3 separate regions of the Homo sapiens genome follow, and regions 2 and 3 are each linked to region 1. Evidence: fine-mapped expression QTL. A gene starts in region 1. Each other region holds a variant in brackets. All regions are shown on one strand. Distances are between the middles of the regions. Region 1 holds the start of EPHB6 (EPH receptor B6). Region 2 holds the start of LOC124901762 (a long non-coding RNA gene). Region 3 has its middle 29 kb from the start of PRSS1.

The links. PIP is the estimated chance that this variant, and not a neighbour inherited with it, causes the effect.
Region 2: its variant is the best candidate, but not a certain one, in a credible set for the expression of EPHB6 in whole blood (TOPMed, PIP 0.88).
Region 3: its variant is the best candidate, but not a certain one, in a credible set for the expression of EPHB6 in whole blood (Lepik 2017, PIP 0.84).

The regions. Positions count from the first base shown.
Region 1 is chr7:142,852,269-142,857,268 of GRCh38, reverse strand. It overlaps EPHB6 (EPH receptor B6), which reads right to left and starts at 2,193. Exons shown (of 20, transcript NM_004445.6): 1 at 1,884-2,193.
Region 2 is chr7:142,790,162-142,800,100 of GRCh38, reverse strand. LOC124901762 (a long non-coding RNA gene) reads left to right here and starts at 3,410. Exons shown (of 2, transcript XR_007060565.1): 1 at 3,410-3,493; 2 at 3,851-4,119. It also overlaps TRB, TRBC1, TRBD2, TRBJ2-1, TRBJ2-2 and the pseudogene TRBJ2-2P, and 5 more genes. The variant C/T (reference allele first, on the strand shown) is at 5,271.
Region 3 is chr7:142,716,263-142,725,045 of GRCh38, reverse strand. It overlaps TRB, TRBV28 and the pseudogene PGBD4P1. Among named protein-coding and RNA genes, the nearest start is that of PRSS1, 29 kb to the left of the region's middle. The variant G/A (reference allele first, on the strand shown) is at 2,826.

The sequences.
Region 1 (5,000 bases):
CTAGCAGAGGACAGTCCTGTGTCCCTGGAGGCCTCCAGCCCCTGAGAATGTCCCCCAGAGCACTGTGACTCAGACAAATGTGCCTCCCACTCCCAGGCTGTGGAGCTGGGGGAGGCTTTTAAGATGCAGGCAGTGTCTAGGTCTAGCCAGACAGCCACTTAGAATGAGCCACTCTGTGCACTGACCGGGGACATGCGTGGCTCTGGAAAAGAGCATAAGGGAGGGTGTTAAGGCAGGAGGCAAATGTGCCTGAGAGATGAGTAAGTGGAAGGTTGTGGAAGAAAGCCCCTGAGTGCCAGGAGTAGCACCTGCGTCAGCAGTGCCTGAGGATGTGTGTCTACCTGGTGGAGTGTGTAAGGGAATGTGTATGAGATGAGGTGGGCGGGAGCAGATGCTGTCTGTGTAGATGGGGGCTGTTGCTTTCCTGTGGCAGAAGATGCACATCAGTGCTGGTTCCGGAGTGGTTCCATGGGCCCTTCTTCCTCACCTTCGGCCCCTGCTCTACCCCCAGTCTGGCTGTGAGTTGCTCTTGGCCCCAGGAGGTACTTCTGCAGAAACACCTGGGCTGGGAGAGGGAGCCAAGTGGGGGGCGGGGAGGAGTGGGTAAAGAAAGGGAAACCTGAGGCTTCCCAAACCCTCCAGAACCTGCCATCCTCCTTCTACCTAGAGTGGGAACTCAGGGTCTAGGGCCCAGGCTCAGGACAGAGTGATAGCAGAACAGCCGTCCCAGAAGGAGGATCCTGCCTTTCCCATGCTCAGCCCACCCCAGCCTGTTGCTCCCCAGCATTCTGGTAACTCAGTGTCATTGCCAACCATCTTTTTGCACCCTGAATGGAGTAATAGACTCCAAACAAGTCCTCCTTCTGAGGCCACCAGGTAAGTACATAGACACCCCCACGCTAATCTTCCTTTGAGAAAAAAGGCCCACTGCTCTGAAAAGCCAAGTGGCCCCACTGAGCAGCACTCAGAAGCCTCAATGCTCCAATGCCCCTTACTTGGGCAGCTTCTGTGGTCTACTAACAGCCCCACACAGCTCCCTCCCACTGGTCTCTCAGCTCAGGACCAGCATCTCCCCTCCTAGAGCCTCAGTCAAGTTCCCCTGGCGGGCGGAGGGCCTGGGTTAACTGGGAACAGACCCAGCAGCTCCGCTCCATGGGCGCTGCCAGGGACATTACAACATTGCTATGCTGGGTCCATGCCAGCTCCCCCAGGGATGGGAGGAGAGAGGGTGCCAGACGGCCAAGATCGGTGGGTGGGGGTGTGGGGCAAGCAGGGCCAAGCACCCAGATGGAGGGAGCAGAGCGAGGGTGGAGCTGGGGCAGGAGCACGCAATAGAATTTGGTTGCACGTTGGGGGTGATGGCTGGGCAGCAGGAACCAAGCGTTCCTTCCACCTCCAAGGCTTAACTGTGGTCATGGAGCTGGGGGGGACAGTGCCTTGTGGGGAGCAGGGGACAGGTGTGTGGTCAGCCTCCTGACTCCTCCCAGCTCCAAGGGGATTGGAGTGATGCCACTGGAGTCAGAGGGGTGGCAATCCTGTTCCAAGCGTGGAGCTCCGTCTCTGCGAGGACCCTCCCAGATTAGGACTCCCAAGCCAGAGCCAGAGGAGAATGTCTGGGAACGCAACTGGGGGATCCTAACAGCAAGGGTAATGCGGTGTCAATGATGCCAGGTCAGAGTGGAGTGAGAGGGGAGTAGCCAGGTTGACCGTTTCCTCACCCTTCATGAACCCCACTCTGGCCTTGAGGAAGGATCCTCAGTACTCCCTCAGGAAGCCACCTAGGGGCTGAGGAGCCCCACTACTCTTGCAAACCTTAATTCCTCTGTCCCCAAGCATACTGTCCCCGACCCCCACAACGCCGCCTGCTAACCCCGCGGGCTCACCTTCCCGTTGGCCGCAGTCTCTGCAGGTCTGCGCCCCCCGAGGCCTCGCAGTGGACCCGGGGCTCCTGGAGCTCGCACGGTGCCACCCGCGTCTTCTCCAGTCCGGGGACCCCGTTGCACCCGGCCCGGGTCCGTTCGGCGCCGAGAGTCCCTGGGATTCCGGGGTGGACCTGACGCTGGCGGCAGGGGCTGCTCCAGAGGTGGGGCGCCGGGAGATCCTGGGGGCCCGCGTCGAGATCGCCGTCGCCAAGCTGGGTCCCGGGTCCCGCCGCCCGCTGCTGTAGAGCCGCGGCTGGAGCGAACGCAGCCCGGCCCGCCCCCTCCGCGTCCCCTCCCAAGCCGGCCCGGCCCGCCCCTTCAGCCCCTTTGGCCGCCTTCCCACTCCCTTCTTCCGGGGAGCCGAGCCCGCCCTCCCGGCCTAGGCGGTGAGTGCGCGGCGCCCGCTCCTCCGCCCCGGCGCGCGGGGGAGACGCGGGGCGCGCCCGGGGCCCCGCCTGTGCGCCGGGAAGGGGGCGGCCTCCTCCCGCGGGTCTTGGCCGGGAGGATCGCACGCGTGGGGCGCCTGCAGGAAGTGGGAAGGGAAGAGGCTGTCTGTAAAGCCCCTGCCTGGGCTCGGGCTCGGGCTCGGCTTGGGTCGGACACCCGCGGAGCGAAGCGCAACTGGCGGACCGTGGCAGTTCAGGGCAGGGCAGAGCCCTGCACACACCCCCTCGCGCCTCCCTCCTCTTCGGCTTTAACTCTAGGAACTAAAACAGTGGGGCTCCTACTCAGCTTGGAACTAAGGTGGGCGTGAGCTGAGCAAGAGAGAAGGAAGGAAAAGCAGGGGGTGGAGGGAAAGACAAACTGAGAAATCTGGGAGAGTACGGGCGGTGGTAGGGGGAGCCGAGGCAGCGGGAGAGGGGGGCGTCTCGGTATGAAAGCGTCGCCGTGCTAGCCGGGAACTCTTTTCTCTTTTCGTGTCTGGATCTTGGTCAACGTTGGGGCTTCTGAGTCGAACCTCCCTCCATCTACCCTCCCCAAGGGGCAGGGCAGTCGGGTTGAAAAGGGGAAGCGCTGCTGTACGCCTGGCTCTGACATGGCTTGGGCAAGTCGCTGCACCTCTGGGTGCCTCCTCCCTCGCCCGCGCTCCGGAGAGAACCTCCCTGCAGTGAGGAGGGGCGGTGCAAGGTGCTCTCAGCTGGCGCCTGGAGGCAGGGTTGAGGAACCGAGGGGGCGCCGCGAGGAAAAGTGTTTCCGCCCACCTCTAACCCCTTCTCTAGCCGAGGACGGGGATTTGGGGTCTATTGTTTGGGTCCTACAGAGCTGGGCTGGGGCCTTGCCACGAAGTGTTGCTACCACCTGCTGGTTTTTCTAGGGAGCACAAGCACCCGGTGCGATTCCCTTTGCCCCCTTTTCTCCCTGTATCGCCCTGTCCCATCTTGCTCTCCTGTTTATTAAAGCAAATGGGCTGATCAAAACTGGTACTTAAAGAGCATTCAGAAGCCGAAGAAAATTGTGAAAGAGATCTATGAGCCAACAAACACAATAAACAAAACAATGAAACTCAGTAAGAGTCACCTGGGAGAGACAAACAGGCTTTAATGAATTGACTGAATGAGTGATAGAAAGATAAAGGCTACCGAGCAAGTTCCCACTTGGCCAGGGGTTTGTTCACTCTTAATATCAGGAGTCAATAAATAAGTCTGATAGTATTTAATGACTGCATTTGGACGTCATTAATAATTCCACTTGTACTGACGGTTCTACTTTATCTTGTTTCTTCCCTTTGCCCTGAAACTCAGTGGTGGAGGGCTTCCTTCATTTTCTGGTTATCTCCAAGGCTTTCAAAGACTTCTGCAAAGAAACAGAATTTGCATTGTGTGTGGAATTACGTAACTCATACATTAACATGCCTGATTGCTAGACATCTATGGTTATATTGAAAACTTAAAAAAAAGACACATAACTAGATTATGTTAAAATAAAAATATGGACAAAACCAAACCGTAGTTGTTACTTTATAAAACCCAGAAATTCCTGTAGTAATTTGCAACGTATCCTGTATTGACATAACAGTAAAAATATCTGCCTTCTTTTCTATTTCATGATATACCTCATATTAGGTGACTATAATATGAAATGAAGTTTTTGCTGCTCAAGGCTTGTGTAATTAGTTATATTTGTCTTGTTAATAAAATTTGAGAGGCATCTAGTTTTCAAAGGAAGTGTCATACTCAGGATGCAAAGAGGTTTAAATTTGTGATTAGTCGGCTTTGCATCCTAATTGCCTATGTCTTATCAAACCAAGTTTTAATGGTAGGTGGAGAGCATAGAATGCATTGTTAAAGTATGCTGCAACCTGCAGCTATTAAAAAGCAAAGTAATGAATTCCTTTTTAAAGTTTAATGTAAATTTTTTGCTATAATTTGTTTGGTGCCTGGGACACTCCAGGTGCTTAGAAGTGTTATAGAATGAATCAATAAAAAATAATATTTAAACTTTTTCTATGTGGATGGGCACAGTGGCTTATGCCTGTAATCCCAGCACTTTGGGAGGCTGAGGTGAGAGGATCACTTGAGGTCAGGAGTTTGAGATCAGCCTGGCCAACATGGTGAAACCTCATCTCTACCAAACAATACAAAAATTAGCCAGGCATGGTGATGCATGCCTATAGTCCCAGACACTCAGGAGGCCAAGGTGGGAGAATCGCTTGAACCCGGGAGGCGGAGGTTGCAGTGAGCCAAGATTGTCCTACTGCACTCCAGCCTGGGCGACAGAGTGAGACCCTGTTTCTTTCTATATATATATGTGTGTATATATATATATTTTTTTTTTTTGACTTGTTCAAAAAAAAAACCCTGGAGTATTGCTAATGGGCAGGACCTAATAAAGTTTATGGCTCACAGAATTAATCATTTCTGGCACACAACAATCTATTATGTAAATTTGGAACCAAAAGGAACTGCTGAGTAGAAAACTCCAGGTGAGATAGGAAGGCTCCTAGATTGGTTCTGCCTCATTTTTTCTGAGTTTTTGCCTCCTTCTTGGGCTTTGCTCACTCCCCTAGGATGTGCAATTTTCTTCTTCCTTATTTCCCCTTAGAACAGCTAATGTAAGCTGATGTTGTCATAAACAAAG
Region 2 (9,939 bases), 60 kb after region 1:
TTGATACAGTTTCTGTCCTGAGCATCTCCTTTGTAGATTCTTAGGGATGACAGGTAAATTCATCCCCTTTAATCCCTGAGGACCCCTTTCATTTTGCTGAATCACTTCTTTTGGACCTGCCCTCCTACTCATCTTATCTTTTTTTTTTTTCTTTTTCTTCCCATTGATTGTTTTTCATTTCTGAGCAACTCTATTAAAATGAAGAAATATCAGTCTTAGGAGAACCTATTCCGAATCTCCTGGACAATGGAGGAAATTTACTCTGACATTTCTTTACATTTGTATGGATGTGACCTCCTTCCTAGGTCCCCATGGGGCCTCCTGCTAGAAGGGCCCCCTGCTTGGTTTAGTGCTCTGCTGTCACCATGTTGAAATCCTAAGATTTAACACGAGCCCCGGCATTTTCATTCTGAGCTGGTCCTGAAGATTTTGTAGCTGGTCCTGCTTCCCATCATGTCAGTTTCCTTTCCTCCCCACAACTCCTACCTGCTAATTACTACTATGCTTCTAAACATTTACTGGCTGGGCTGGGGCCGAAGTGGTAATATCCTAACTTCTATCTGCAGAACTTTCTTTCTTTCTGCTCTCAGCCTGCTTATTTTCACTCTCATCTCAAAAACCCTGGCTCTGGGAGTCTACCAGCCCTCCAGAATGTACTCCTTTGATTTCTTCATTTAGCAAACACTCAGTCCTCATTGTAAATATTAAAAATATTCCTTGACCATGTATGCTGTTCTGTGGAATAGTTATTGATGCAACAGGCGTGGCGAACACTAGCCGCCTCTCACTACACACCAGCATACTATCTGTACATGAGGGCAGGGTCAACTCTTCTTCTGCATTTGTGAGTCCGTGTGGTGTGGGGCTTGTCTCTGTGGGTGTAAGTGTGTGTACTAGTGAGCTTCTGGAGTAAGTGTGTGTACTAGTGAGCTTCTGGTGTAAGTGTATACTAGTGAGCTTCTGGTGTAAGTGTGTGTACTAGCAAGCTGACGGTGTGTGTGTTCTAATGAGCTTCTGGTGTGAGTGTGTACCAGTGAGCGTCTGGTGTAAGTGTGTGTACTAGTGAGCTGCTGGTGTAAGTATGTGTACTAGTGAGCTGCTGTTGGCCTGTGCTCTACTTGTGGGTTGGATTCACCTTAGGCAAAATTGTGATGTTTGTCTCACATCTTCCCAACCCACCTCTGACACAGACACAGCCTTACTCCATTTCCACACTTCAGATCCTGCCCATCCTTTGGCACTGGGCTGACCCTGCCCCCTGTCTCCCCAGTGACCTCCTAGGAGGATGGGGAAAAGAACCATTGAATTACATCAATAATCTGTACACGGTACATGTTGACTCTCTTTTCTTCCTCACAGCAATAGTAAGTGGTAGGTATTGTTCATTACATTTTATAGTTGAGGAAACTGAGGTTCACACATTAATTTGCCCAAGGTCACCACATCACAAAAGAACCAGAGGTTCGAACTCAGCCTTTATCTGGTTCTAAAGTCTGGGTCTTTTCGGTGCCCCAGCTGACTGCAGGAACCCCACATTTCCTCTGGATACGCTTCTCTGTAGCTGAGCCCCATTACACCCAGATTAATGACAGCCTAACTACAAATGGTACCGGTTAATATACCAATATTGTGAGTTCTCTTCTCTGGCCTCAGGGCAGTTGTCACCAGGTAATGTTTAGGGTCCCTTTTCAGCTCTCAGGGCCTAAATCTTCCAGAGAATTTTCCTCATCTCACAGGCAAATTGTCTGCATTTTAATGTGTGTTTGTGGCGAATGAACTCCCTGAACATCTGGGCTGTTTAACCTAGAATACTTAGTGTGCTAAGGGAGATTTCAGGATAGGGGAGGGAGCTACACGGGGGCGGGGGTGGTAAGTGTACCCCAGTGGCTGAGGTTATGTGCCCTACTCTCAGGTCAGCACCTCTTTGTTGACCAGCCCGTGGGTAAGCATGAATGCCGTGCCCTCACCCTGGACCCAGGGATCTCTGGCTTAGGAGGAATAGGAATCGGGAACAAGGAGTTTTAAGTCGGATTAGAGATCCACACTGCTAAACAGTAAACTTTCATTCTTTTCTTCACTGACTCATGTTCATCTCCCTTTTTGGCTTCTCTGTTCCACTTTTGTTTGGCAGGCTTTTTCTTCTGTGTTCTACTGCACCCTCGGCTGCAGGATTTCTGCCCCCTAACACCCACCCGCCTGCCCGCAGTGCTGACCCTTGCCCACCCGCGCTGTTCCCAGCCTGCTCAGCTCTTTTTGCCTACGAATAGCAGTTACCCCCACTCCTACCCATTCCCCAAACCAGGATTTCCCTTCGTCCTCTCCAGTCTCGCCTCTCCCAGAGTCCTAACAAATCCTCTCCTCCATCGTTCACCTTCTCTCTAAACACCCCAGAAAAAAGATTAAAAGTGGCCTCGCCCTCTGCTCAGCTTTCCGGACTCTGAGCACCTCCCCACCCCCTCCCTCTTCCCCAGTCTTTCCCCAGGAGCGGGGAGGTGACCTTGCAGAGCTGACCCCGGACACCCAGCTCCTCCAGCTCCGGTCCACCCTCCGACTCCGGGGACCGAGGGGCTGGAAGGTGGGGAGACGCCCGAATCTCACCTGTGACCGTGAGCCTGGTGCCCGGCCCGAAGTACTGCTCGTAGGAGCACGGAGGTGCACCCCCGCATGCAAACCTCTAAGGCTCCCCGAGCTCCTGCCCACCCTGGGGACCCAGCCCAGGTCTCCCAGCACAGGGCCGGACCGGGTGCCGCGAAGCAGCCGCCGCCTTCCACCTGAATCCCGCCGCCCGGGTGGTCCCGCGAAAACTCACCCAGCACGGTCAGCCTGCTGCCGGCCCCGAAAGTCAGGACGTTGGCCCCAGAGCACAGCCCGGGGACTCCCCGCAAAAACCAGACCCAAGCCGCCCGCGCCCGCGCCCCAGCAGCCCGCGCTCACCGAGCACCAGGAGCCGCGTGCCTGGCCCGAAGTACTGGGTCTCTTGGTCACGGCCCCCGAGCCCCGCACAAAAACCCGAGCGCAGTCTCGTCCCCGGTCCCCCGGCGGCCCCAGCTTACCCAGCACTGAGAGCCGGGTCCCGGCGCCGAAGTACTGAATGTTTTTGGCTCACAGCCCCGAGACGCGGCACAGAAACTGGCCCTGCGACGCCCCCGGCGTCCCGGGGCGCCCCCTCCCCAGTTCCGGGGCTTCAGCGGGAGCCCCCGCTTACCGAGCACTGTCAGCCGGGTGCCTGGGCCAAAATACTGCGTATCTGTGCTCACAGCCTGGAGGCCCAGGACAAAAACCGGTGCTGCCCGCTCTGCTGTCCCAGACTCAGCTCGGGTCCTTCCCACCGCTGAGAGCCCCATCGCTCTCCCAGCACCCAGAACCAGGAGTCCTCCGCCCAGACGCCCAGCAGCGCCTCTCAGCACAGCCCCTCTCAGAGTGGGGCAGCTGCTTACCTCTGCCCATCCCGCCCTCTCGGAGCTCTCCGGAGCCCCAACCGCCTCCTTACCCAGTACGGTCAGCCTAGAGCCTTCTCCAAAAAACAGCTCCCCGGTGTTCGCACAGCCCTGGGGACCCTGGCGCAAACCCCGCTTCCCTCGAGGAGGGCCCTGGATTGCCCAGTGTCCACTCCCCTAAGAACAGGGTTCTGGGGTCGTGCAGGCTGGGCTGCTCACCCTCTCTCCCACCTGGAGCCCCCTTCTTACCTAGCACGGTGAGCCGTGTCCCTGGCCCGAAGAACTGCTCATTGTAGGAGCACAGTGGGAAGGGGCTGCCCAGAATTCCTTCTCCTTCCCCACCTCCCTTAGCACAGACAGAGGGCACACCCTTCCTCTCTTTCCTGAGCCTATCTTTTCCTGTCTCGAGTTAGCTGGACACGGTAACCTGGATCTTGCATGAGGCCACCACCAATTTGCAGAGGAGAATCCACTTGGCTGGGGGACAACACAGTGGATTTGAAATCTGAAGGGGCATTGGTGGTACTGGAACGGCTGGAGCTGGGCGATATTGCAGGCTAGACCTTGCCGTTTCCTAGTTATATGACCTGTAACCTCTGATCTCAGTTTCCTCATTGGAAAGATGGGACAATATCTTTCCCTCAGGGTTTTCATCAGTTCTTAATAAATAATGCATGTGCAAGTACTTTGTCAAGAACAAGTTTTATTAAAAGTGCTGAGTGATAATCCCACTTTGCTGTCTTGGCCTTCTTATTCCTTGGAAGCCGAGTCTGGACAGGGAGATGGACAGGTGCTCGCTGGGTTGGGGGACCCTGCAAGACCACAGCTGGGACCAGCCCCAGAGAACTCTTCCCACCTGGTAGCTGCATTCCCTGAGCTGGGTGGGGATGCTTACTGCATCAGGGTTTTTTGTAAAAGCACCTCCTCTACCTGAATCATCGTGCCCTCCCGCTAGTCCCCACAATGTTACACCATGATACAAAAATGTTTCCTCCCTGCTAGTCCCCCTCCCCCAACCACTGGGCAGCGGCAGGAAGCGCAGGTGGCAGAGGTTAGTCTGACTGTGTGGGGCTTGGAAAAGACAAAGGCAGTGAATTAAAATGGGAAGGGCTTGGGGAAAGTCACAGTGATGGTAATGGTGGGGGGCAGAGAGGTCCCTCCTTGGAACATGCATCACCCTGAGCAGACCATCTATGTCACTGGGTCTCCCTGGTGGGGCTCACTGTGCCCACCTGCTCAGACTGGCATTTATAGTGAAGTGGGTGGGAGGAGCGAGGGGTGGCAGGCAGCTCATAGGAAAATCCACAGAGCAGTTGATGGCACCTTATGACAGGAGGACAAACAATCCAGAAACCTCTATAATTTCCCTTTGTTCAGTTGCTTCCTGAACGATGTCTGAACTCCATATTCTTCATTTACTCCACAGGTGTTTAGTGAACATCCACCATGTGCAGGCTCCATGCTGGTTGCATGGAGGTAAGTTTATTCCCAGAGTGGCATGCACCAACCTGCCTTTCCAGCGCTAATTTTGAGCACTCCCATTTCTGAACCTTGCAACCAGCTAAACGGGCCTACCCAGAGGTACCTAGCCATGTCATTAGGGCTTTTGTTCATGCCTCTGACCAGCATGGCCATTCTCTAGAGTGAACAACTGAGACCAATTCTTCCTTTGAAGAGATTGCCACCTTCTCAGACTCTTTACTGATTATCCCAGTGAGAAATTGAGGGCCACTCTCTGACTGCATTTTAGTAAGCAGTTCATGTTGCTCTTTCAAAGCATGGACTTGCGTTTGGCTCTTTCTGTTCATGATTGAGTTGCTCTGTGAACAGATA[C/T]GCTTCTTGGGGACTGTAATTTGGGTATCTTAATTTTCTTGGAAGTTGATAACAACACATCACAGGGATATGTGTTTAATGAGTGGATGTGTGTACATGTGTGTAAATATAAACATATACACGCGTGTGCATACATGCACACACGCATCTTTGAATGCATGTATGTGTTGCAATAAAGAGGGAAGACTGTGTGGTGTAGTCCTATAAATGGAAGGGTAATGGCTATTTCAGGCAGGACTTACGGTGATGATTGCTCCTGGATTGGGTCAGTTTGGGTTCACTCATTTATTCATTTATTTATTCATACATACCTATGTGGTGTCTACACTAAACTGAGGTTACTATACTATAGCCCTGGGATACTATCTTAAAATGTATCCTTGTTAACAAGGAGTTCATAGTCCCTGGGGGTGTCAGACAAATAAAGAGGTAGTTTCCAGCAAGTGTGATGTATCACAAAGAAGGTTATGCACAAGGCACTGTGATAGCAAAATAAAGGTGTATTTAATCCAGCCTCAAGGGAGGAAGAGGTAAGGAAGAGGCAAGAAAGGGCCAGAGAAAGCTTTTTGGAGGGGAAGACATTGGAGCTAAATCTTTAAGTCTAAGCAGGAGTTATCATGGGGAGAAGAGTACTTTGTCACCCCAGGAGGAAGAGCATGTGCAAAGCGGCCTGAAAGAAGCAGCTCAGGGGCTTCAGGGATGAGAGAAGTGAGGAGAGTGTGGAAGGAGACAAGGATAATCATCCGGTCTTCTGTGCCACCTTTGGGATTTGGGACTCCATCACCATGGTGACAGTGAGACAACAGAAGGAGCTTTTGAAGGAATTCTAGAAGTAGGAATGGGGCTGATTCTCAGTTTTAGATACCTTTATTTTCTAACCTTCCAGGAATGATTAGGGGACATTTTCATTCTGGTTTAATTCACTAGAGAGAGATTTATAAACAGATGGGTAACTTAAACCGGAAGACACATCTTCCATTGAAAATAAGTTTGCAAGTCAGAGCCTCTCTTCTTTGGAGCTGGGAAATCAACTTGGTGAACCAATGAAGATGAATGGAGTGCTCAATAAGAAAGCTGCAAGGAAGGTGGGTGATGCTTATGGAATCCAGCTTTGTTAGTCACGGGGACATGGCCAGCTGGAGGGTGAACACACCTGTATAGGTTGGCTCTTCCTCTGAGCACGTCTTTCCTGGGCAGAACAGTATAGTTGGATATAGAAAATTCCTATACTCAACATCTGTGTCTTCCTAGACTGTTCTAGAAGTAACCTCTTCAGCTCCCATCACTGCCTTTCACGCTGAATTAACCTCTGCTATTGATCTCAAGGTGGGCCCCTCATCCCTCTTACGTGAAGAGTCTGCATTTTCCTTGAATACCTCTTGTTTCTATCCTGACTGAATGGGGAGAGTCACAGGGAGTTCAGAGACAGCCAAGGAGCTATCCAGACATTCACAAGTCAGAGTCAGGCCAGACCAGAACATTTTTATTGGTTTAGTCACTTAGGCATGCTAAGGTCCCCCTGGGTTAGGGAGATTTCAGCCGTGAGTGTGCAGGTGTGCATGCACATAGGGGGATATCTATTGGGATGCAGAGAGGTGAGAGCAGCTCTTCAGAAGCGCTGGCAAAAGAAGAATGTGTATTGAAACCATGACGGGTTAGAAGCTCCTAACTCCACTTCCAGGGCTGCCTTCAGAAATCCTTTCTCTTGACCTGCAGAAGAGAAAGTTTTGGGGGTTATTAAGAGCCAGGAGTTGTGAGGATTGAGAGAAAGTAGTAGGGCCCATTGACCACACAAATAGTAAGGCTCATCACAACATCCATTGGGTTTTCTGGTGACTCCAGCTTCTCCTTCCCAGCATGACCCTTCCACTGTGATCCTACAGAGGTGCAAGTTATCTTCTGAGGCACCTGAATGAAATCTCTTCCCTCCCTACTGCCCAGCTCCAATCCTGGCAGGGACTCTATACTTCTGGGTGCTTGGTGTCAGTGTGTCACCTCCAGCCTGCTGGCCCCATCCTGCCCTCCTGCTTACCATGGCCATCAACACAAGGGCGCTGACCAGCACAGCATACAGGGTGGCCTTCCCTAGCAGGATCTCATAGAGGATGGTGGCAGACAGGACCCCTTGCTGGTAGGACACTGTTGGCACGGAGGAAGGACAGGTGGGTACCTGTGCACAGGTAGCTCTGGTCTCTCCCACCCTCCACCCTCCAGTGTCTGTGAGTTCTTCATGCCTTGGTTCTAGGTCAAGAACCATGAGAGAGGGAGAGGAAAAGGAAGGGCTTACTTACCCGAGGTAAAGCCACAGTCTGAAAGAAAGCAGGGAGAGGAAAATAAATGAGAGACCTTATTTTCATAGGCAATTAAAAGTAAAGTCAGATTTGCAGTTGGCACAGACTCCCAGGCCCAGACCAGCTTCCTCTGACAGCCCAGCACCTCCTTTCTTCTGCCATGCAGATGTCAGCCACATTGTCCTTGCAATCCATGGCATGTGGCAGCACTGAGGGGGCTGGGGGGCACCACCCAGATGAGAGTTACACAGGCCACATAGAAAGGGGACCCAGCTGCTTGGCTCTGTTGGGCTGAGAATCTGGGAGAAGAATGAACCACAGGTGCCCAATTCTCCTTCATGGTGTGCGCTGGTTCCTTTCTTTTTGGATCTAGTCTTGTCTGCTACCTGGATCTTTCCATTTTCCCTGGTAGCTGGTCTCACCTAATCTCCTCCAGGCATCTCCCCAGGCCCCACTCACCTGCTCTACCCCAGGCCTCGGCGCTGACGATCTGGGTGACGGGTTTGGCCCTATCCTGGGTCCACTCGTCATTCTCCGAGAGCCCGTAGAACTGGACTTGACAGCGGAAGTGGTTGCGGGGGTTCTGCCAGAAGGTGGCCGAGACCCTCAGGCGGCTGCTCAGGCAGTATCTGGAGTCATTGAGGGCGGGCTGCTCCTTGAGGGGCTGCGGGTCCGTGCTGACCCCACTGTGCACCTCCTTCCCATTCACCCACCAGCTCAGCTCCACGTGGTCAGGGAAGAAGCCTGTGGCCAGGCACACCAGTGTGGCCTTTTGGGTGTGGGAGATCTCTGCTTCTGATGGCTCAAACACAGCGACCTCGGGTGGGAACACCTTGTTCAGGTCCTCTGGAAAGGGAAGAGGGGTTGGAGCCAGGGTTGCTCTGAGAGCTGTCTGGTTCTGGTAGGGGCTCTGTGTGTGTGAGAGAGAGCCCTGGGAATGGGCCGTAATGAAGCACAACTATGTCATTCTAGGCCCTCATTGTTTTGGGGTCACCATCCCAGTGTCTGTTGCTCTCTCTCCACTTTGCCCCTCCTTTCTATGCTGTCCCATGGATGCACATTGCCTACTGTCTCCCCAGCTTCCTATGGTCACATTATATCCTGATTGTCTTGGCTGTTTTTACTGAGGCTTGTCTGATCATCTATCCAAATAATTTATCTGTGTATCTTTATTTTTCAAAGCCTTGCTTGGTGCATGGCTATGTAATCCTGAAACTCGAGGTAGGAAACTCTCATTAGTGGTATAATTACAATAACTAAATTGACTTTTTCTAATTATAATTTTCCTTTTTTAAATCAAGATGTATATATTTGTCTCGTGGGGTAGTGACACATATTAGAATTAGCTTTTCTTTTCTAGAAAAGACACTTTTCCATTACATCTGAGTCCCCCACCTGCCCAGCACCTTTTTAAAAAATTTTATTTTCTTGCATGTAACCCTCTTTAAAGAGCCAAACCTGGTCAATATCTGATGGGATGGTCCACATTTCCTCCTCCCCTGGGGCAGGAGGGTGTGGTAGCTTGTCCAGGATGGCTGAAATCCCATGGAAGTTGATGGTCATGGGATTAACCCTTTCTTCTCTCAGAGTGTCCAGCAACCCTGCCTGGCCAGGATTGGAATCCGTCCACAGTTAAGCTTTGCATTCTCAAAAGTAGTACAAGCTAGACCACTGAGTATGAATGAACCACAAAGTCCAAGGGCCATTTCAGTAGAAAGCTCACACTGCAGAGCTCTGGACCTTTTCACATGCTTGAGAGAGGAGAGAAAGAATTTCTGGGATTATTGGAAAGAATGATTTCATCTGAAGACACATGAGGAGTGGAAGAAACCACAATTTACTGTGCCCTTTGCTTGGCTCTGTTCCAACCATGAGAGTGAGCTTTTGGTGCAGAAATGTGGCAAGTCTAGATATGGGTTCTTTATCCAAATTTGGGAAATGTTTTTGATGGGAAAATTGAGATGCAGGTTTGGAAAAAGGCAAACCCTGTGACCTAGTGATCATAAACAACAGGAATGAAAAGGATTGTCACCACAAGTTGAGTCCTTTACAAAATCCTTTACAAAGGATTTTCATATAAGTTAGTCTCTTCTGTTTCTATGTCTTAGAGAGGAGGCAGCTTAAGTTGCTTTTCAAATTGCACACCTCCCCCACCACAGCCCCTTGAACCCAGGCCTTTGAATCTGGTGATTTGTACTTTCCACTCAACGTCTTGGTGTGTGTCCCCACCTACACTAATGTCTGCCCAAGCCCCTAAACTTTGGTAGACCCTATGAGTCCCATTCCTCCACCCTTGTCTATGTCTCCATCCTAGACCTCATCCCATCCCAACCCCGCTCCACCGCCTGTCTGCTTCCTCCCCAGCATGGGGAAGGTTG
Region 3 (8,783 bases), 130 kb after region 1:
TAATATGACTATGTCCACTTGTCCATCACTAACAAGATCCAGTTTCTGCTCTCAAGCCTTCATCCTTCTACTTCAAAATGGAGGTGTTAGAAGCTTGTGCTAAGACATTAAAAATGTCTTTGGTGCTATGGCTATCTTGCTGTTACAAAGGTAGAAGGTAGAATTCCCTGGCTGTGTGGATTACGTCTTTCACCTAATGGTTGGTCTTGGGACCCATTCAGCTGAAGATGGAAATATACCTATCTTGGATTCAATTATCTTATTATTTAAAAAACAATATAGAAACATGCCTTTCCACTAACTTTTCAGCTGTGAGGTTATAGGCAAGTCATTTAAATTTAGGTTTAATTACACTTCACTTATTTAAATTTATTTTTAATTAGGAGAAAATAATATCTGTATGTCAGGGCTGCTGTATTTTATATGTATAAACTACCTGTGATATCTCAGTGGACTCTAGAGAAAAAAAAATTGCCTCCTTCTCTAAATTTTCCTTGTTCCCTGCAGGAAGAGGCCAGACATCTTCCCAGCCATGTCCCATCAAAGAGCCCTGTTAATACTCCCATTCAACAAAAAATAATTTATTTTGTTATATTTTCCCAAATCACATAATTTAAAACATTGCTTAAAAGACATAGAACCAACCCAAATGCCTATCAATGATAGACTGGATGAAGAAAATGTGGCATGTATACCCCATGGAATACTATGCAGCCATAAAAAGGAATGAGATCATGTCCTTTCCAGGGACATGGATGAAGCTGGAAGCCATTATCCTCAGCAAACTAACATGGGAGCAGAAAACCAAATACCGCATGTTCTCACTCATAAATGGGAGTTTAACAGTGATAACATGTGGACACAGGGAGGGAAACAACACACACTAGGGCCTGTTGGGGGTCGGGGGCGAGGGGAGGGAGAGCATCAGGACAAACAGCTAATGCTTATAGGGCTTAAAACCTAGATGACAGGTTGATAGATGCAGCAAACCACCATGGCACATGTATACCTATGTAACAAACCTGCACATTCTGCACATCTATCCCTGAACTTAAAGTAAAACAAAATAAATAAATAGATAAACAAACATTGCTTACTTGGAGATTTAGAGTATCAATTTTTATGTTCTGTGAATTTGTTGGTCTCCTAATGTGATGTATGTTTATGTATGTTTAGTGAAATAATGGTTTACATTTTCTGAATTATTCTCTGTACCCTCATGGTAAACATCCATGATCTATTATGTGCCTTTAAAAGTCTATTATGTGGGTCAGGCGTGGTAGCTTATACCTGTAATCCCAGCACTTTGTGAGGCCAAGGTGGGCAGATCAAGAGGTCAGGCGTTCGAGACCGGCCTGACCAACATAATGAAAACTCATTTCTGCTAAAAATAACAAAAATTAGCCAGGCATGGTGGCGTGCGCCTGTAATCCCAGCTATTCGGGAGGCTGAGGCAGGAGAATCACTTGAACCTGGGAGGTGTAGGTTGCAATTAGCCAAGATTGTGCCACTGCACTCCAGCCTCAGCAACAGAGCGAGACTCCATTTCAAAAGAAGAAGAAAAAAAAAGTCTATTCTGTAAACTGTGAACTCCCCCGTGAACACTTTTTCATTTTTTTTCTAAATTCAAACCTCCTATCCCAATCTACAATCCTTTTGACCTCTTTAGATGTCTTCTGTTACTCACTTTGATGTTTGATACTCCATCTCTGCCTATTTTCATTTTCATTTTTTTATGTGTTCTTCCTCTCTCCCTGGGCTGCATTTTCTTAGCAAGGTGAGGCTGTGTTGGAGGGAGCAGGTGGTAACCATGCCAGAAGGGAAGCTGAGTCTGGCATAGCACTCTTTCTACCAGGGACTCAATTGAGGTGATGACCCCTGTGTTGGAAATGGTCCCACATAGCCCTGGGAATGGACGCAAAGTGCTGGTACCTGTTCCCATCTCTTGCAGTTGATCTTCTGAGTCTGGGCAATACTTGCTATAAGAAATAAATAATCTGTGGGAAAATGTAGGACTCTCAGAAAACCTGAAGTTTCACTGAATATGAAAATCTGTAGATACAGTGTTCTGTTATTTAACCCTTTTCCTGTTTAGTAAAAAAAGTGCAGCTCGCTGCCAGCATTCATTTAATTTGACATAAACATGCTCTTTGAGGCTGAAGCAAATTTGACTGATTATCAACATGAAAATAAAATATAAAAACTGTTCTTGGAATTATTTCTAAACAGAACTGGCCTCTAATCCTAACATCACAGAAATGTATATAATAATCACTATTAGATAATTTTTTCGTGTGGGAAAATTTCAAAGCACGGAACAACAGAAAGTGAAACATCACATTCCGCACAAAAATATTGCCGTTCTCTATAGATCTTGCCATCCTCGTCATTGTGTGAGCAGCAAAAGTGCAGTGACCAGTTGGGTTTTGTTTCTTTGATGGTGGTAATGCTGTTGGGAAAATGTCTTCCAGGTGGGCCAAGAGGTGTGACATCATCAGAGCGTGGACGACCCCAGAGACGTTGCTGCCCTGGCTCACGATGCTTTTTCAGCATCCTTTTAATCAATGTCAGTCTGAAGTTTCTATGGCAAACCGTGTGCTCAGAATTCTCCTTCTTGAACAGGATGTAGGAGTTAAGCACTGTAATGTTTAGAAGGTGGAGAAAGAATTTCTTGTATCAAACCTTGTGTGTTATCTCAGGGGAAACGCTGCAGCCGCAAGCACCGCTAGCATGTATTCTCGGCGCAAAAGGGAAAGGATTTTAATGATATTCTGGGAAGATGTGCTTTCTCTGTTCTGGATGTTGACCTCGGCCAGGAGAATTGT[G/A]ATTCCTGTCTTTCCTCAGGGAAAGAATCTTCCTCTTCCTTCTGGTAGACTCTCTCACAGAAACATTTGCAGGGTATTTCTTCCTTTTGATGGTTTCTCTTCCCTCATTTACTTGTATTCAAAATCAGCTCAAGTCCTATCTCACACAAACTTAATCTTGAATATTGTGATACACATTCATTCAATTTTTTTCTCTGACTTCTTCCACACAAAAATTTAGCACTGAATCAAAATACGTTTTCAGATGCCTGTTTTGTCTTGCCAATAATAATTGTGCAAGTGCTCTGCAGTTTGGGATTTCTAATACCCTTTACATTTATTTGTATTTCCAAAGCACTGTTAATTTTTACTGACAGAAGAGCATATGTTTTATTCTTAAAGACAGACAAATACACACTTTTTCCAGAAGATTGTGAGTTCAGTTATAACCAAATTCCTACCACCTTCTGCAGCAGAGTTTAAACCTTCTGTGATCAGAATTTTTTCCAGCAAAATATGATTGATCGGAGAACCTGGAAGAATTTGTTTTAATCAGAGTTTTTCTCTTTCTAAATTGAATGAACAAAATTCAAATTCCACAAACTTTCTCTTGAATCAGCACAGGCACAGTAAAAATCATCGAAAGAATTTAGAATATGTTAATGTCCTCTAGTGAAATGTCAACCAAGAGCAAAACACTAAGCAAAGTAGAAAATGCACAGTTAAGAGAGACGAGGATAGAAAAGGGAAGGTAAAATTGATTAACGAAATGGTAGAACAGGGTTACACTGTGAATATGCGAGAGGACTTTTCCTCCTTGTTGGGACTCGTGAATTTACAACACATCGGACTGGGGGAATTAAATCCAGAACAGTCCCTGACTTGTAAAGGGGTGAAAAATAATACCTCATTCTCTCCTTGCAAAGAAGTGTGCTTATGGAGCTAGTTTCTCCTTAGTGGCCGCTTTTTTTCTATTTAGCACGAATGTGCCATCGGAGCCAGCACCAGCCCTGAGTTAGGGCCCCTTCTCTCTTACGTCCGCTCTTTTTGTGCAGAGAGGATGCGGCTGTGCTGCGCTGTGCATAAACTGCTGGCACAGAGGTACATAGATGTCTGGTTGGTGCTGGCGGACTCCAGAATCAGGGAGAAGCGCTCCTTCTTCTCTCTAGAGACACTGTACCCCTCAGGAATATCTCCTTTTTCTTTCATTTTAACATCATATGAGAAATAGATCAGCCGTAGCCCCAGACCTGGGTCTTGTCGATACCAGAACATATTTTCATGGTCCATATCCTGGACACATTCCAGAAAAACTTTCTCTCCCGTCCTTTTGACTAGATATCTCGAGCTCTGGGTTACTTTCACATCTACGAGGCCTGTGAGAGACAGAAAGCAAGGGTGAAAAACAGGCCATCAAGGAGGAGAGGAGAAAAGAGCTTGGTATAAAAGACCTCAAAATAGTAGGACAGGGGTTGCCACCAACTCCCCAGACCCAGCAACTCCCAGGACTCACCTACAGCCAGGAAACAAAAGGCCACACGACAGAGGAGCCTGATTCCCATGGCTGCTTTGAAGAAAGAATAGGTCTTCTCCCAGGACCAGGCAGTGGGTTGATGGTCTGTGATGTCATTGTCCCGGCCCACTCTCATAATCCCTCAGCCATTGTCTAGACTAGAAAGGGTCTAGAGGTGCTAGAGAGTGAAGGACATCCCTTGTGCTCATGGAAGTGTCACTGTGTGTATGTGCACGTATAGAAAAGAGTTGACACAGCGGGCCTGAGACTGCTGGCCTTAGAAGGGACTGCTTGCATGGTTGGCTCTTGATTTGCATCTGCGAACTTGAATTTTGGGAGTGTTCCCACTATAGTAACTGGTAAGCATGGCTTAGTGTGTCTAGACTGCTTGCACAAACCACGTGGGTTAGGCTGAACACTTGCTTTACGTCAAGTCTGGAATTATGCTGCATGATAGGCAGAGGGTGCCAATGTGATCAGCTGAATTATTTTGCGAGGGCTGCCATAAGTCACCACAGACTAGGTCATTTAAGCAACAGAAATGTATTTTCTCATACATCTGGAGACTAGACATCCAAGATCGGGGTGTCAGCATGGTTGGTTTCTCGTGGAGCCTCGCTCCTTGGCTTGTAGATGGCTTCCCCCTGTGTCTGCACATTGTCTTCCCTCTATGCATGTTTGTGTCCTAATTTCTTCTTATAAGGATCCCAGTCATATTAGTGAGGACCTCATTTAACCTTAACCACCTCTGTAAAATCCTTATCTCCAAACATAGTCATATTCTTAGTACTGGAGGCTGGGATTTCAACATATGAATGTTTAATGACACGATTCAGCACCTAACACCAGCCACTGAAAGTATTGGAGGTGCTGAGTCTCTAATGAGCTTCCCTGGGCAGAAAGGTTGTTCTCACGTTGCTGCATTTTCATTGTTGGGGTGAGAGTGTGCTCTCTCATGGAAGAGAACATAAGGAAGTCTCACATGGATTTCTCCAAAGTCCACCATGTCTTTGTTCCTTGTGATCATAGTATTCTTACTACATATTTGTGATACATCTTTGCTATGAGTACAAGGACACGCCGAGTCCCATGAGTCCTTCTGGTGAGTCTCAGTCTTTGAAAGTGAAGGTAATTTTTTTCCTGACCAACTGTGATTAGGAAAACCTTACCATTTTCTCTCTCTCTCTCTCTCTCTGTCTGTCTCTCCTCACTCTCAACATATATTTTATTGAGAGCAGTCTTAGTTTCTCATACAATATACTTAATAATTACTACAAGTAGCATATTGGGTAATAGGGCAGGCTTTGGAACTATGCTGCCTGGGTTTGAATCTGGTTCAAATCCACATGTGTAGGTTCATGTGAGTGCTCACATGTGTAGGTTTACCTGATGGGGTTGGGGAGATGGTGGTATATCAATAATGGGGTGGTAGGTGTGTTCAGCCCCAGGTGCAAGCGATAAAGGGTGCAAAGCATTTTAAAACAATCATAAAACCCAAGTGAAATGGTTTTGCTTTTATTATCACCAAGTGCCAGGAATTCTAAATACTTTTGGTGATAAAAGACTCCTTCAATGAAAGATTTGTCCTTGTGTGACTGGCTCATTTCACTTAGCATTATGTCAAACACAGAGAAGCAGAGAACAGAATGATAATTGCCAGGAAAATGGGAGAAGGAAGAACTGAGCTGCCATTCAATTGGTGTAAAGTTTCAATTATACAAGATAATTACATTCTAGAAATCTGCTATGCAACATTGTACCTAGAGTTAACAATATCATATTGCACATTAGTTTTGTTTAAAGGTTAGATTTCATGCTAAGTGTTATTCCCACAATAAAAAGAAATCTCACCAAGTAATTTTGGTACACATCGAGAACCACTGATCAAAACAAAAGGGTCAGCTACAACTGTCAGTGTGATGCTTATACTGCATTTTCCGGTAACACTTTACTTGTGGTTATTTTGCTAACATTATTCATTAAAACTTTCTGATGGTCTAAACAGGTTTTGAAACTGTATCCATGCATAGTATGAATCAATCAAGTCACAATAGTTTTTAAGTTGTTTGCAATAATATAAAATAGTTATTGTAATTATTCAGACTATATTCCTTAGTTTTGACATTACTGTGAATATCTAATATCTAATCCAACAGACTTGGCCTTACCATAAATCAAGCATACTGACACAGCTACCCAACACAAACACCTTTGAACTTCAGTTTCACCAGACTATTTGCTTACAAAAAAAGCTTCACAACCATAAACATTGTTATCTTTAGTACAATTTTTTTTTTTTATTTTACAAGATGTGAAGTCTCAAAGCTTCTACTGGCAAAATCTGTAAGTGTATAGTGTAGCCTAACCTGCTTAAATGAAAAGTATAAGACTAAGATTAAAATTGCCCCGAGACACAGGTAAACAAAAAGGGAAGCATGTGGGGCCCCAGAGAGGATCCCTGAAGACCGTAATGTAGAATGCAGCCTTCCCTAGTAGGTGGTATGAGGGGGGCACTGGATTGATGCAGGTCAATTCTAATAAAGAACTCAGGCTGATGAAGCCCTATTGAAACAGCAAATGAGAAGGAAGGGAAAGAGGACATTGACAGCTCTGTCTCACAGGCGCACCGTGATCTGGGGATAGATTTTTTTTTTTTTTTTTGAGACGGAGTCTCATCCTGTCACCCAGGATGCAGTACAATGGTGCGATCTCGGCTCACTGCAACCTCCATCTCCTGGGTTCAAGCAATTCTCCTGCCTCAGCCTCCCAAGTGGCTGGGATTATAGGTGTGCACCATCATGCCTGACTAATTTTTTGTATCTTTAGTAGAGATGGGGTTTCACCATGTTGGCCAGGCTGGTCTCGAACTCCTGACCTCATGATCCACCCACCTCAGCCTCCCAAAGTGCTGGGATTACAGGCATGAGCAACTGCGCCAGGCCGGGGATGGACTTTTACAGACTAGGGCCCTCAAGAGTTCCATAAGTCTCAGTGCAAGGAGGTGGGAAAGGCTCCTAAGTGCTTCTGCGGTGGCAGTGGCTTCCTCTGGCAAGGGCAGGCTCAGGAAGGTAAGACCGTCTCTCCCCTTGTGGCAGTCTTTTCTGTTCAGAGAGGAAGTGGCTGTGCAGGGCTTCGGGTTAACGGCTGGCAGTGTCTATGAAGGGCTGGATGTCTGGAGGTTGCAAGAAATAGAACTTAAAGTATATATATATTAAAAAAAAGAAATGCTCAGTCTTATCTCAAGAGACACAGGTCTATTAGAGACTCTCTATTTGTTTGTACTCCAAGCACCAACTGAGAAATAGATTAGTTGGAGCTTCATTCCTGCCTCTTGTCTGGCTCAGCACATATTGGTCATAAAACATATTCTGGTTGTAATATAGAACTTTATATTCTGACTCTGAAACTTGATAAACTGAAATTTCAGTGACACCAGCATTCATGGACATTGTGGCTAAAAAGAGAGAACTTAGGAAATATACTGATGTGTAACCACCAGAAAAAGGCTTAATGTAGGGTCTAGCAAACCAAGTTCAAGGACGTCATACCTGCACCCATGACATGCCTATTCCAAAGAGGCAAAAAGCTATAGAACAGAGAAGTCAATGGCTGGTGAGTTCATGGTGGTGTCTCGGTGTTGGTGTTAGCTCTGTTCAGGCTGTTAGAAGAACACACAGCGGAGAAATAATCCAGTCAATGATTCAAGGCAATCGTCTTGGAGGAAGTGACTTCTAAATTGGTCTATGAAGGAGAATCTCCCCCATTCCTGGAGTCGCCCAGTCCAGACCTCTCTGTACATTTGCACCAGCAGTTTATCCACAGTGCTGCACAGCCAGCTGCAGTCTGCACAAAAAGAGCAGCTGGAAGAACAGATGAATACCAGAGAGAGAAATGGTATTCTGGGTAGAGTGACCATTGTAGATAAAGACCCAGGAGTGAGTCAGCAGTGGACATATTTGGGGATGTGCGAGAAATGGGATGTTTCTGGAGTAGATGCAGGCAGTTGTGGTAGTTGAAGGATAAGGGAAGTCAGTGTTAGAAAGGTGGGGGATATGCAAAGGTCACATCATGGAGGGGCTGAGAGACTTGCAAACTAACATAAACTTGAGACTTTAGCTAGTTAATAGAAATAAACCAAAGGGTTTTAAGCTTGAGGGAGTGGTTTTGGGTGGGAGCAGGTGCAGGCTTGCAGGTAGGGTGGCTACTTGGAAGGTGGCTAAAGTGATCCAGGTGAGATCAGTGAAATTAGAAAAGTTAGTAAAATTTGTGAGGAATTTAGTACTTAGAAAAATGCAGGATAGGGTAGTGGATTTGGTGTGGAAGGAGAAAGTCAGAGAGAGAGTGAAGATCAGTCTTGCATCTCTGGCTTGGGCATTTGGACCATCTGCTGAGAGGAAGAAAATAGGAGGTGCTGGGTTTCATAAATAACTCCAAACATGGTGTTCCTCCAAGTGACAAAACCTCCA